2 linked regions of the Homo sapiens genome follow. The protein of the gene in region 1 interacts with the protein of each later gene in a pairwise test. Each region holds a gene or a part of one and is shown on either strand. Other genes may lie near its edges.

Evidence for each region.
Region 2: the proteins of DNAAF6 (region 1) and P2RX4 interact in binary tests that used the Homo sapiens proteins (3 or more experiments, as listed by UniProt).

Annotation. Positions count from the first base shown.
Region 1 is NC_000023.11:107,237,402-107,244,684, reverse strand, and holds the end of DNAAF6 (dynein axonemal assembly factor 6), read right to left. Parts: intron 5,764-7,283; coding exon 5,678-5,763; intron 1,517-5,677; coding exon 1,387-1,516; 3' UTR 438-1,386; downstream 1-437. UniProt on the Homo sapiens protein: Plays a role in cytoplasmic pre-assembly of axonemal dynein.
Region 2 is NC_000012.12:121,220,012-121,227,294, forward strand, and holds part of P2RX4 (P2X purinoceptor 4), read left to right. Parts: intron 1-1,901; coding exon 1,902-1,973; intron 1,974-2,082; coding exon 2,083-2,155; intron 2,156-2,718; exon of another isoform or gene 2,719-2,756; intron 2,757-2,935; coding exon 2,936-3,032; intron 3,033-7,283. UniProt on the Homo sapiens protein: ATP-gated nonselective transmembrane cation channel permeable to potassium, sodium and calcium. CTP, but not GTP or UTP, functions as a weak affinity agonist for P2RX4.

The sequences.
Region 1 (7,283 bases):
CATAGAAGAAAGTCGTGTTGGTAGCTTAAATGTCAAATTCTCTGTAAGAGCTTAGTGTTCTAACACAACCATTTTTTTTTCCAAAATCTCAGTCTTTTCATTCTATTTCATCATTTCATCTAGTCACAAACTAGATGCTTCATAGTTGTATATATATAATTAACTCTAGAAAATATCTGCTATTTATTCCCTTAATAGTTCATATAGAAGTGATGAACATCTTTTCATTGTTCATCTTTTCAAAATTTACTCCTTGGTAACTCCACAGTTCTAAAATAATGTATGAAGCCAAGTCACACAAGCTTTATAATGTATTCATAAATAATTCCAAAATAAACATATGCAATACAGTATAGAAGAAGGAGGGGACATTGAGACAATTCCTAAAAGAGATATGTCTATTTAAGAAGAAAGATAGGAAATGAGAGCAAACAGGATTTGTAAATGTGCCACACTTTAAATTTATTTTAAAGTCAAGGATTTCAATTGACTACATATAAATACAGTACCCAAAAAGGCAATGCTAATAATTATTAGTGCATATAAAAAATGTTTTTAACCTAACTATATCCAAGCATTAAAAGCACAACTGAAGAAGCCAAATAATACTGTACGCACAAAAGTGTTCCTTACTCAAGTAAATATGTTGATAGTATGGTACATCAAACTATTTATTACCTGTATATTCCAGAACAACAGTGAGAGCCTAAACAGAGAACACTGTAAATCATTTGCTCAAATCAATGAAAAAGCAACCAAATAAAATTCTCTGGTAATAATAATGACCAATTGCTATGCAACTGATTGTATCACAGTGTAAATGTAAATAATTAGCATAAGTTTTTCAGACTACTGAAGTAAGTGGACCAACCATTTCATGATCATATTTCAATTATGTAATTGACCATGAAATATTCTAATTTTTTAACCTGTAAAGATTCTACTCAGCTATCACTATAAAAATAGAATAGTTTATTTACATAAGAAAACATATTTCCTTTTTTTGTTTGTTTTTTGAGACAGAGTAGCTGGGATTACAGGCACCTGCCACCACGCCAGGCTAATTTTCGTATTTTTAGTAGAGACAGGGTTTCGCCATGTTGACCAGGCTGGTCTCAAACTCCTGACCTCAAGTGATCCGCCTGCTTCGGCCTCCCAAAGTGTTGGGATTACAGGCATGAGCCATTGCACCTGGCCAAGGAAACATATTTCCTAACAGAGTAATAGAAATTACTGTAAATGGTCACAATATCACTAGAACTGAATTTTGTCCCTTTCAAAAATATGTCAGAATAATAAAGAGAATATAGAAAACAATCATTTTTTTCAAAGTTTTTTAATTGTTACCAATGCCATTTTACTACTTTTTATCTTTTTCATGCAGTTTCAGAAGAAATTAGCAATATCTAACTCTCTTTTCATAGTCATAGTGATTTCAAGAGTTTCAGTCTCTGGGATATAGAATGCTTTGGCACTGGTACATTCCACCAGCTCAGGAAGAGTTATCAACAGCTTCCTAAAAAAAAACAACAAAATAAAACCTTAGCTTCCTAAAATGATGTATCACTTTCAATAAGACAATTGCAAACAACATATGCCACTAGAGTGTTAGAAAACAACCCCCCCCCAATATTTAGATAGTGTAAATATTGGATCAAAAATATGCCTAAATAACACAAACAGTATACCAGTTTTTCTGGACTTAAAAATCCAAGCAGTTGTTTTGGCGCCCCTATTTTTCTCCGAATTGACCTCATTTTACATAGTCTCAGGCTATGTTTACAGGCATAGAAATAGAACTATGCAACTTTTAAGTTTGCTGGACAGATCTGTTGCCACTCATACTTATGTATAGATGCAATGTGGCCGACGGATACAAATTTGAAAATTGGAATGGCTCTATGACACTTCTGCTAACATAGATTTAAGCAGAGTCTCTACCACAGGTGTAGTTTTTGAAACTGAGGCTGGGAATGATTTCAATACCAAATCAATGAAAGTGCTTCTCTCTCCTTGCTTCTGATTCTTTCTACTTACACATTGACAAAAATTCCCTGTGATAGATTGCTAGGTTTATTTTGTGGTTTATAGTTCAGTTGCTGGATAGTTTTATGCTTTAGATGCATTGCTGGGATGAGACATCCATAATTCTGCCATATTGGCATGAATCTAAATTATGCACGGGGTCAGCACATGCTGGTTTTGGAAGAAAATTAAATGCATGAAACACTTGTTACCTCGCATTTTCAGTAGAGAAGGTCTGAGTATCTCTATAAAAGGTGGACAGGATGCTCTTTTAGAAGGTATAATATCCAAATAAGTAAAGGAATATGGTATTTTTAGGGGCACTTATTGGGTTCTTGAATTGAGAACTAGTATGTATTTGAAAACAAAACCCTTGAAAATCAATTCCTTCTTTATTCCTTTGCAAAAACCTGAGTTCAGAAGACTGGGTTCATTAAAAGTATTTATTACACATTTATGGAACCTGAAGGATAAATTTTCTGTGACTCTTGTTCCATTCCATGTGGGGTAGGAAAAACACTTCGCCTGAATACGTTGCCAAACGTAGTGGCAATGCATTTTAATGTAGACTGTAATATTTGGCATCTCAGGAAAAAAAAAGTGAGTGCAAAAACCGTGTAGAGTCCATCCTTTAAATCTGTTTACTATATAGGTTGTGCTAGACTTAGATTTCCTTTATACTTTATTCAATAAATGATAATATATTCACTTTTAAAAGAAAGCAAAGCTTAGTATGGTAGCTTCGTTGCACTAAAAGACAACTATAAATCAGCTGAAGAAGGAGTTCCAATGATAATGTGCACTTCTCTGTCCAGAGAGAAATAAATTCAAAAGAGACAGTTAGTGGCCATTGGAATGATCCATCTACGCCTGCATTTCTGTGTAGTTCTAAGTAGTATGGCTTCACATAATAAAATGTTGAACAGTAGAACTGTACAACTGATTTAGGCTCTTAGGAGAAGGGAAATATTTTCGTCGTCTGTTTTACTGTCTTATTATCTGTACTGAGATTTATATTTAAACAAAATAAAAATTCTCCAAATACTTATCCATGTACAATTCATGGAAGGACATTAATGTATCTTATCTTGGTGCTCCCTTAGTGTCTAGTGGAAGACTTTATAAATGTTGAGTGAATAAATAAATGAATGAGTGAGTAAATAAATGAAGCAAGTATTCAGGTCACCACAAAATAACATTTGAATAATTACCATAGATTAGTACTATAAGATATGAACAAACATTTAAACCCAATACCTCTACTTTTACATTGACAATGTATTTGCATTTTCAGAAGTTACAGTCTAGGCAGTGATCAAAGGTTCATCCAGTGTTAATTTTCATTAGAAATTAAATGCAAACAATAATACATGAATGTAAATACAAAAAAAATCTCTACAGTGAACTCAAGTTTAGAGACTTACATGCTTATACTTATATTAGAGAGTTTAAGTTGATGTTGCTCACAAGAGATTTAAGCAAAGGACATCCTGGTTCCCAGCATATTCGCATAATGAAATTTTTATCTTATATAATTAACAAAATTATTTGACTTACATATCTGGGTTAAAAACCTTTTTAAGGTTTACTGAAGGAGACATAACTATTTTCAAAGAAAGTGCAGAAATAGCTACTGAGCTGCAACTCAACTATTTCATTTAGAAAACTTCTTTTTTAGCTATCAGTCTTTGAAAATCAGTCAATTCCCAATCCAAACTAAAGGAGCACAGCAAATGTGTGAGTAATCTAAAGCAGCACTCAACCAAAAATTAGCTTACATTTGTCTTTAGAATGTGTTATTATTATCACATTCAAGGTATTCATTTATGAAATTCTTAGAATTCACTTAGAAAAATAATGAAATCTCATATGAAGACTTAAGAGATCCCCGTAAATTATCCAATTTTCTCCGTCTTTCCTCCTCTCCATTTACTCCATGTTGGGTATCTACATGCCAAAACAACCAATTGAAAAAAGTGAAGAATTTGGTAAACTGCTTTATTTATTTTGGTAAATACCTGGGTTTTATTGGTAATTCGAATGAAATTGACTATTGTTTGACAGAAACCACTGGTCAATTCAGTTAAAATAAATTCGCTTGTTTCTGCCTTATAGATACAAGAACAGAATGCCCTCTCAAATCTTTCTCAGATTGGATAAACATAGCGTTATATGATGTCAAAGTTAGAAACTAAAGAAAGTAGGTGTGAATATCAATAAACTCGAAAACAAGACACATTCCCGATAATGCAATTTCAGAGAAAAGCATGGCTCTAAAGGATTCTCAAGTATTTAGGAAACATGATAAAATCCTTAATTATATTTTCTGTCTTCTATCTTAGTTAAGCAGGTTTTCTTGAGATGGTACCTCTCTGCACTGCGCATTTAATATATAAGTACATTATGATCCAAAGGACCTAGTGTATAGCCCATGTTCTATGTGGGAAAGTACTTTTAATCCAAAATGTATCCTCACAGAACAAACATCTCATGTTATAAAAATTGTATTCAGTATTTCTGCTGTCTCCATCAATCTTTAGGTAGCTGCTATGGCTGTGCCGTCATTACAGATATCCATCAGAATCCACTAAATGAAAGTCTCACAGACAGTGAGAACTGCTAGGGAAACGGAAATTAACCCCATGGTGTGTAGACATGTGTGTGCTTTTAACAAGCTTGCAAATATCTTGGAAGATTGTTCATTTAACCAATTTTCCTTGTAAAGGTTATGTGGAAGAGTAAATTCGTGTATAAAATGCAACAAAAGGGTACAATACTCCTTGAAGTAAACAGCAGAAATAGTGAATATAATTTTTATAACATGAGATGATTGTTCTGTGAGGATACATTTTTGAAATGATGTAAATAATAAGAAAACATTTGATATATATTTATCTGTAGACCATTTTGGGTTAAATGCATTTACTATAGAAGCCAAGATTAAGCTACATATGCATATTGGGTTGTTTACACATAGGAATCTTTTGTATGAAGGATCTTCTTGTCATTTTCTTGAAGTCCTAAGCTCAACAAAGGAGAATTATAGGTACTGATAATGGAAGGAAGAAAATGTGCCAGCAACTGCCTGCCTCCCAAATCCAGTTTGAAATGTTCATGAGTTACAGAGTTAGGACCATTGCAGTGAACCAGTATGTGCTCACTGCTCTATATCCAGATAAGATGTGCACAAAGCAGTGAGGTATTTAGATAGTAATTGATGGCAAGATCTTTTTGTTGATTTAAATGAAAACACTCAAATTTAACCTTACAGCCCCACAAAATGACAAAAGTATAAAGATATTGCTTCCCTTATGTAATCAATGTACAAAAACCACATATAAGACTTACAACTTAATGGCATTTTCACTTCTAGTTATTTTTTCTGATAGATAAACTGCATCTGGGTGTCAAGAATTGTGTTTTAATAGCATTAACCCACTCCAAATGCACGGATGCAAAGTAGAAAAAAGTCCAAGTATTTCCAAACATATTTATGTTTATATTAATGTAGATCAAACATCTGAATACAAAATTTTCCACTTTTCTTCAGACTTTAGGGGTGATACAAAATAACTGTACATTTTAAAAAATAATATTGACTGAAGACTCTTTAATATTATAATACACTATTCCAGTTCTAAGTTTTACTCACTTCTGAGGAGTACGAAGGTCAAGGATTGTTTCCTGGATATCAATTTGAATATCAGAAGGGTTTGTATTTGGCAATTTAATTTTAGCCTGAAAGAGAAAATGAGAAGAAAAATAGTGATATCTTGGAGAGCAATTAATTTGAAGAATATAAGAATATATGGGGAAAAGAGACTAATATTTATTGTCAACTATGTGCCAGGCTATGCCCTATCTTTATGTCAATCTTGAGCAGCAGAGATTATTATCCCCATTTTACAGATGGAGAAACTACAACAGAGAAATTTAGTGAGTGGCCCAAGGGCAACCTCCTGTAATCTGACTAAGGTTTCTGGCTCCAAAGCTATACAGAAACACTTTGGTTACTTGACTGTAACCTTCATTTTCTGAAGGTACATAGTAGTACACCTGTTAGAGTTGGGGACCTTCAACTGCCTTTATATCAGTTGGCAATTTGTATAAAAAAAGTTTAGTTCTCATGTTGGGTATGAGTTGGTGATGCCATCTAATAGTCTTCTGGCATAAATTTCCATACCACATTTTCTAGGGAGGTGTGGGAGTTCAGGTGTTATGTTATCAAAACAAAAGAGAAATAACAATATGACTCCCACCTCCCCAAAAGGACAACATATTGGTTTAGTAAGATTTCACTTTAAATGTTTCATCTCAATTACCACATGGCCCAGCAATTCCACTCCTGGGTATATACCCAAGAGCACTGAAAACAGGTTTTCAAGCAAAAACATGTACATAATGTTTTTGCTTATAGGAGCCCTATTCATAACAGTCAAAAGGTGTAAGCAACCCAAATGTGCATCAACTGATGAATGGAAAAAACAAAATGTGTTGTATCCATACAATGGAATATTATTCAGCCATAAAAAGGAGTAAAGTACTGTTATATGGATGAATCCTGAAAACATTATGCTAAGTGAAAGAAACCAGGGACAAAATGTCACATATTATAGGATTCTATTTATATGAAATGTCCACAATAGGCAAATTTTTGTTTTTGTTTTGTTTTTTTGTGGGAGACGCAGTCCCGCTCTGTTGCCCAGGCTGGAGTACAGTGGGGCAATCTCGGCTCACTGCAACCTCTGCCTCCCAGGTTCAAGCAATTCTCCTGCCTCAGCCTCCAGAGTAGCTGGGACTATAGGTGCGTGCCACCACGCCCGGCTAATTTTTTGTATTTTTAGTAGACGGGGTTTCCCCGTGTTAGCCAGGATGGTATCGATCTCCTGACCTTGTGATCTGCCCGCCTCAGCCTCCCAACGTGCTGGAATTACAGGGGTAAGCCACGCGCCCGGCCCACAATAGGCAAATCTATACAGACAGAAAAGAGATTGGTGGTTGCTAGGGGCTGCGGAAATGGAGAAGAGGGAAGTAACTGCTTAATGGGTATGGTGTTTCCTTTAGCACTGATGAAAGTGTTCTGGAATTAGATACTGGTGATGGTTGCACAACATCGTGAATATACTAAATGTCACTAATGGTAAATTTTATACTATGTGTATTTTTACCACAACACAAAGTCTATCTCTTACTCTCTACATGCTTTCTCTTTCTGATGGAAGTTGATGTCTATATATAGGATAGCATGGCATATGGTT
Region 2 (7,283 bases), on another chromosome or scaffold:
GCTTTCCAGAAACTCTAAATCAATTATTTGGCACCTTTATACATATAAGGAGGAAACAGAACCTTTTCAAAGAGAAATGTCACTTGCTGACCCTGACCGAGTCTTCTCTAGAATGTTTGATTTATAATTTCAGTTAGGAAAGAAAACCAGCCAGATTTGAGCCCCATGAGGCCTCATGTTTTTATTCCTCTGAGATAATCTGGTTGGCAGGGAATGTTTTTAGCACTTGTTGGCTCTTTCCCTCAGTAAGTCAAGTTTGATTGAGAAACCATTGTTTCAGTTTGCAGACCCCCCCCTTTTTTTAACTGCAGTCAAATTCACTTATAGAAACTAACCATTTTAAGTCGGGCACAGTGGCTCATGCTTGTAATCCCAGCACTTTGGGAGGCTGAGGCAGGTAGATCACTTGAGGCCAGGAGTTGGAGACCAGCCTAGCCAACATGGTGAAATCCTATCTCTACTAAAGATACAAAAATTAGCCAGGTGTGGTGATGTACACCTGTAGTCCCAGCTACTCAGGAGGGTGAGGCTGGAGAATCGCTTGAACCCAGGAGGCGGAGATTGCAGTAAGCCAAGATCGTGCCACTGCCCTGCAGCCTGGGCGACAGAGCAAGGCTCTGTCTCAAATAAATAAATAAATAAGAAAGAAATTAACCATTTTAAAATGAAAAATTCAGCACATTTAGTGCATTCACAGTGTTATGCAAGCATCACCTCTATCTAGTTCAAAACATTTCCATCACCCCAAAGGGAAGCCTCGTATGTTACACAACCACTCCCCATTCCCCACTTCTCTCACTCCCTGGCAACCCGTAAGTGCTTTGTCTCTATGGACTTGACTGTTCTGGAAATTTCACATCAATGTAATGGTATCCTGTGTGGCCTTTGTGTCTGGCTTCTTTCACTCAGCATCATGTTTTTGGGGTTCATCCATGTTGTAGCCTGTATCAGTGCTTTATTCCTTTATTTTATTTTTTGAGATGAAATCTCACTCTGTCACCCAGGCTGGAGTGCACTGGCGTGATCTCGGCTCACTGCAACCTCCACCTCCCAGGTTCCAGTGATTCTCCTGGCTCAGCCCCCTGAGTAGCTGGGATTACAGGTGCCCGCCACCACACCCGGCTCCTTTTGTGTGTGCGTGTGTCTGTGTGTGTTTGTGTGTGTGTGTGTGTGTGTGTGTGTGTGTTTTTAGTACAAAGTTTCACCATGTTGGCCAGGCTAATCTGGAATTCTTGACCTCAGGTGATCCTCCTGCCTCAGCCTCCCAAAGTGCTGGAATTACAGGTGTGAGCCACCATGCCTGGACCCTTCATTCCTTTTTATTCATGGCTGAATCACATTCCATCATGTGACTAGACTAGGACAGACATTTGGGCTGTTTCCACCATTTTTTTTTTTTTTTTGAGACAGAGTCTCGTGTCATCCAGGCTGGAGTGCAGTGGCGCGATGTCGGCTCGCTGCAACCTCCGACTCCCGGGTTCAAGCAATTCTCCTGCCTCAGCCTCCCAAGTAGCTGGGACTACAGGTGCCCGCCATCACACCCGGCTAATTTTTGTATTTTTAGTAGAGACGGGGGTTTCACTGTGTTGACCAGGCTGGTCTTGAACTCCTGACCTCGTGATCCGCCCGCCTCAGCCTCCCAAAGTGCTGGGATTACAGGCTTGAGCCACCGCGCCCGACCTGTTTCCACCTTTTGGCTCTTGTGAAAAGTGTTGCTCTGAATATTTATGTACAAGGACTTGTTTGAGTCACTGTTTTCCATTGGGTTATAAACTTTGATGGGAGAGAGCGGGAGAGCACGCGGTCAGTGTTTGAGTTGTCCTCTTCAGTCAGCGTCTGCCTTTCTTGGCTCTCCGTGAGTCCTCTGAGCGTGGCTTGCCCGTGCTGTCTCCCCTCTGCAGGAGGAAAACTCCCTCTTCGTCATGACCAACGTGATCCTCACCATGAACCAGACACAGGGCCTGTGCCCCGAGGTAGGAGGCCCCCGGGAAGAGCCCCAGGCCCCACACCCCTCTCCACGCCTGTCCACCTGTGTGTGGGGCCGGGCCACGTGGACTTTCTTTTCGCTCCTTCTTTTTCCAGATTCCAGATGCGACCACTGTGTGTAAATCAGATGCCAGCTGTACTGCCGGCTCTGCCGGCACCCACAGCAACGGTACGAGCTTGTGGCCTCCTGGGGAGGGCGGCCCCTGAGCAGATCGCCCCCACTGTGGAGCGTCTCTGATAGAGAAATCTTCCCAATTCCTTCACATGACCCTGGGTGAGCCAGGTGCCGAGGCTGGGGTCCTGGAGCCCCTCTACATTCACTGCTGTCATTGGAGCCCCACAAGCCATCCCAGCTCTTGCCCTACTGTTTTTTTTTTTGTTGTTGTTGTTGTTTTTTCTTGTTTTTTTTTTTGTTTTGTTTTTTTGTTTTTTTGAGCCAGAGTCTCGCTCTGTCACCCAAACTGGAGTGCAATGGCATGATCTCGGCTCACTGCAACCTCCACCTCCCAGTTTCAAACAATTCTCCTGCCTCAGCCTCCCGAGTAGCTGGGATTACAGGCATGCACCACCACGCCCAGCTAATTTTTGTACTTTTGGTAGAGATGGGTTTTACCATGTTGGCCAGGCTGGTCTCGAACTCCTGACCTCAGGTGATCCACCCGCCTCAGCCTCCCAAAGTGCTAGGATTACAGGCATGACCCACTGTGCCTGGCCTCTTGTCCCATTCTTTAGCTTGGCATCACCCTGGCTGAGATGTGGCTGGCACACAGGTAACTGTCTTCCTCCGATTCTAACTCCTGGACAGTGACACTGTCTAAATCCCAGATTTGCACAGCTCAAGACTGGCTGCATGGGAGGCTGGATGGGGCTCTCACTCCCTACTCCAAAAAGGTAGAAAATAGGAGACCCCTGTGGACATGGGACCCCCCTGCCACCCTTGTGCTTGTAGGAGTCTCAACAGGCAGGTGCGTAGCTTTCAACGGGTCTGTCAAGACGTGTGAGGTGGCGGCCTGGTGCCCGGTGGAGGATGACACACACGTGCCACAGTGAGTCCAGCCCTAGGGAAGGAAGTGCCTTTTTGTTTTGTTTTGTTTTAGACACAGTTTCACTCTGTATCCCAGGTTGGAGTGCAGTGGTGCGATCTTGGCTCACCACAACCTCCACCTCCCGTGTTCAAGTGATTTTCTGTGCCTCAGCCTCCCGAGTAGCTGAGATTATAGGCACCCACCACCACGCCCAACTAATTTTTTGTATTTTTAGTAGAGACGGGGTTTTGCCATGTTGGCCACGCTGGTCTCCAACTCCTGACCTCAAGTGATCCACCTGCCTTGGCCTCCCAAAGTGCTAGGATTACAGGCGGGAGCCACCACACCCAGCCAGAAGCCACCACACCCAGCCGGAAGCACCTTCAACTCTGCGTGTCAGCCTTGAACAGAGGTGGTCAAGGAGTTACACCTGTGTGTTGTGGCTTTTTGTGTGTTTCTGGTGTCTGTATGAAGTCAGGCTGCCCTAGGATGGCTGCTCTCAACCACAAGGCAGCGACCATCAGTGGCAAGATGGGCCACAAGTAGTCTGTCACTCACGAGAAGGGTGCAGGTGACTGACTTCCTTGTATGTTAGGACTCTGTCAGTTGCAAATAACTGACAGGAAACAGTTCTCAGTGCCTTAAGCACATGTGCACAAACACATACACACATACACATGCGTGCACAGCGGGGGGGCAGTGTATTGTCCGGCTGACCAAAAAGATCCAGCGTGGCCAGGAGAATCTCGTGCCAGGCTGAGGCAGAAGAATCTCTTGAACCTGGGAGGAGGAGGTTGCTGAGCTGAGATGGTGCCACTGCACTCCCTCCTGGGCGACAGAGGCCACTGCACTCCTGCCTGGGCGACAGAGTGAGAGACAAAGGACAACACCCTAGTCTCCCTTCCTGGCTCTGCATCCCGCCGTGCCAGCTTCACTCGCAGGACCCACAGCATAGCCCGGGAGGCAGCGCTGCACTTACAGCCCCCCAAGTCTGAGTCTCCCTTTCCAGCTGTCCCTGGAGATTCTAGACCTGTCCATCATCGTATCAATGGCCATATCTCTCAACCCATCTCTGTGGCTGGGGAATGGGTTTTGCTTATCAGCTTGGGCCTGGGTCACATGCCCACCTCTGCAGCTGGGGCTAGAGTCAGACCCACCCAAGTGACATAGGCAAGCATTGGGGAGATATGGCTTCCAAAGGACATTTGGGGTTCTGTTACCAGAAAAGCTGGGAGCAGATGCTGGGAAGAAAACAACGGATGTTTGCTACAGTGTATTTTAAACTAAACTAGACAGGTTCATCCTGGCGCGGTGGCTCATGCTGTAATCCTAACACTTTGGGAGGCTGAGGCAGTCGGATCATCTGAGGCCAGGAGTTCAAGACCAGCCTGGCCAACATGGAGAAACCCCGTCTCCACTAAAAATACAAAAATTAGGGTTAGGGTGGCGCTTGTCTGTAATCCCAGCTACTTGGGAGGCTGAGGTAGGAGAATTGCTTGAACCCGGGAAGTGGAGGTTGCAGTGAGCTGAGATCGCTCTTCTGCACTCTAGCTTGGGCGACAGAGAGAGACTCTGTCTCAAAAAATAAAAATTTAAAAAAATAAATAAATAAAAATTTAAAAATCAACTAAACTAGCCAGGTTCAAGGTTGCTCTAGAATAACATTCTTCGTGGTTGTAATTGGCTGTGCTTCATGGGGTGGAGTCCGGGCAGCGCTCTGAGAAGTGCGTGCAGCCTAGGGCCTTTCTCACCGAGAGCTCAGACCGAGGTCTCCATGAGCCCCGGGGAGCAGGAAGCCACTGAACCTCATCCTGGGTGTGTTGAGACAGAAGGAAAGGCTGAGAACTGCAGATTTAGAGATTGCTAAGGCAAAGGAAGGAGATAGAAAAAGAAAAGGAATCCTAGCATCTTAGAGCTGGAGAGGATCTCACAGAGCTGTGCTCTCCAACACAGGAGACTCTGGCCACGCGTGGCTATTGAAAATTGAAATATGGCTGGGTCCGAAAGGAGATGGGCTGTCCATAGGAAGTGCACTTATCATCAAATTGGATTTTTTTTTTTTTTTTTTGAGACGAAGTCTCGCTCTGTCGCCCAGGCTGGAGTACAGTGGCGTGATCTTGGCTCACCACAACCTCTGCCTCCCGGGTTCAAGTGATTCTCCTGCCTCAGCCTCCTGAGTAGCTGGGATTATAGGCACCCCCCACCACACCTTGCTAATTTTTGTATTTTTAGTAGAGATGCAGGTTTCACCATGTTGGCCAGGCTGGTCTCGAACTCCTGACCTCAGGTTATCCACCTGCCTCAGCCTCCCAAAGTGCTGGGATTATAGGTGTGAGCCACTGCACCCAGCCCGATTCTGTTTATTATTTATTTATTTTTTATTTATTTGTATTTATTTATTTATTTGAGATGGAGTCTCGCTCTGTCGCCCAGGCTGGAGTGCAGTGGCGCCATCTCTGTTCACTGCAAGCTCCGCCTCCTGCGCTCACGCCATTCTCCTGCCTCAGCCTCCCCAGTAGCTGGGACTACAGGCGCCCACCACCACACCCAGCTAATTTTTTTGTATTTTTAGTAGAGAGGGGGTTTCACTGTGTTAGCCAGGATGGTCTCGATCTCCTGACCTCGTGATCCACCTGCCTTGGCCTCCCAAAGTGCTGGGATTGCACGCGTGAGTCACCACGCCCGGCCCTGAATATTTATTATGAAAAAAAGAATGTATAATATCTCATTGATTTTTGTATGTTGGTTACATGTTGAAGTAATATTTTGGGTTACTGTATAAAATTTTACTTGTTTCTTTTACTTTGTAGTGTGGCTATTAGGAAACTTTAAGTTGGAGTGTGGCTTGTAGTTGTGTCTCATAAGATACTTTTTTTTTGACACAGGATCTTGCTCTGTCACCCAGTGCAGTGATAACGATCATGGCTCACTGCAGCTTCGAACTCCTGGACTCAAGTGATCTTCCCGCCTCATCCTCCTGTGTAGCTGGGACCACAGGGGCGCACCACCATGCCCAGCCAACTTATTTTTTGTAGAGACAGGGTCTCACCATGTTGCCCAGGCTGGTCTTGAACTCCTGGGCTCAAGCAACCCACCTGCCTTAGCCTCCCAAAGTGCTGGGATTACAGCGTGAGCCACCACACCTGGCCTCACAATATACTTTTATTGGACATCACTGTTGCAGATCTAATGCGGTGTAAAATGATTTTTAAGTGCACACTGATATAAGAAATAACATTGGCCAGGCACAGTGGCTCATGCCTATAATCCCAGCACTTTGGGAGGCAGAGACGGGTGGATCACTTGAGGCCAGGAGTTCAAAACCAGCCTGGCCAACATGGTGAAACCCCCTCTCTACTAAAAATATAAAAATTAGCCAGGCGTGGTGGTGCGCACCTGTAATCCCACTACTCAGGAGGCTGAGGCACGAGAATTGCTTGAACCCGGGAGATAGAAGTTGCAGTGAGCCAAGATCATGCCACTGCGCTCCAGCCCGGGTGACAGAATAAGACCCTGTCTCAAAAACAGAACAAAGACTAAAACGTTTTGGAACTAGACAGAGGTGATGATTGCACAACATTATGAATGTACTAAATGCCACAGAATTGTCCAGTTTAAAATGGTTAATTTTATGTTATGTGAATTTCATCTCAATTTCTCTAAAAAGGTGAGTTGATCTTAAAGTATTACATGTGAGGTACACAGGTGTGTGTGTGGGTGTTACGGTACAGGAAATGACAAAAACTTGAACACCCCTGTTGTAAGCCATCCCTCTTGAGGGAGTGGGGACTTTGAAGACCTGAGAGAAGTCCAGGCACAGTGGCCCATGCCTGTAATCCCAGCACTTTGGGAGACCGAGGTGGGTGGATCATCTGAGGTCAGGAGTTTGAGACCAGCCTGACCAACATGGTGAAACCCCATCTCTACTAAAAATATGAAAAAATTAGCCAGGCGTGGTGGTGCACGCCTGTAACCCCAGCTACTCGGGAGGCTGAGGCAGGAGAATCACTTGAACCCAGAGGTTGCAGTGAGCCGAGATCGCGGCATTGCACTCCAGCCTGAGCAACAGGAGCAAGACTCCATCTCAAAAAAAAAAAAAACCTGAGAGAAGCCCCTTGGTCCCAGCCTTTCTCTGACAGCAGTGGTGACAGGCTCAGCTCTCCTCCGAGTGCAGCCCTGTCACTGACCTTGCTCCTGTCTCAGGGCTGGGAAGACTGTTGATGTTGTCATTCCAAAGATCCCACCTGGATCAGGGGAACATCCCCCACAGAA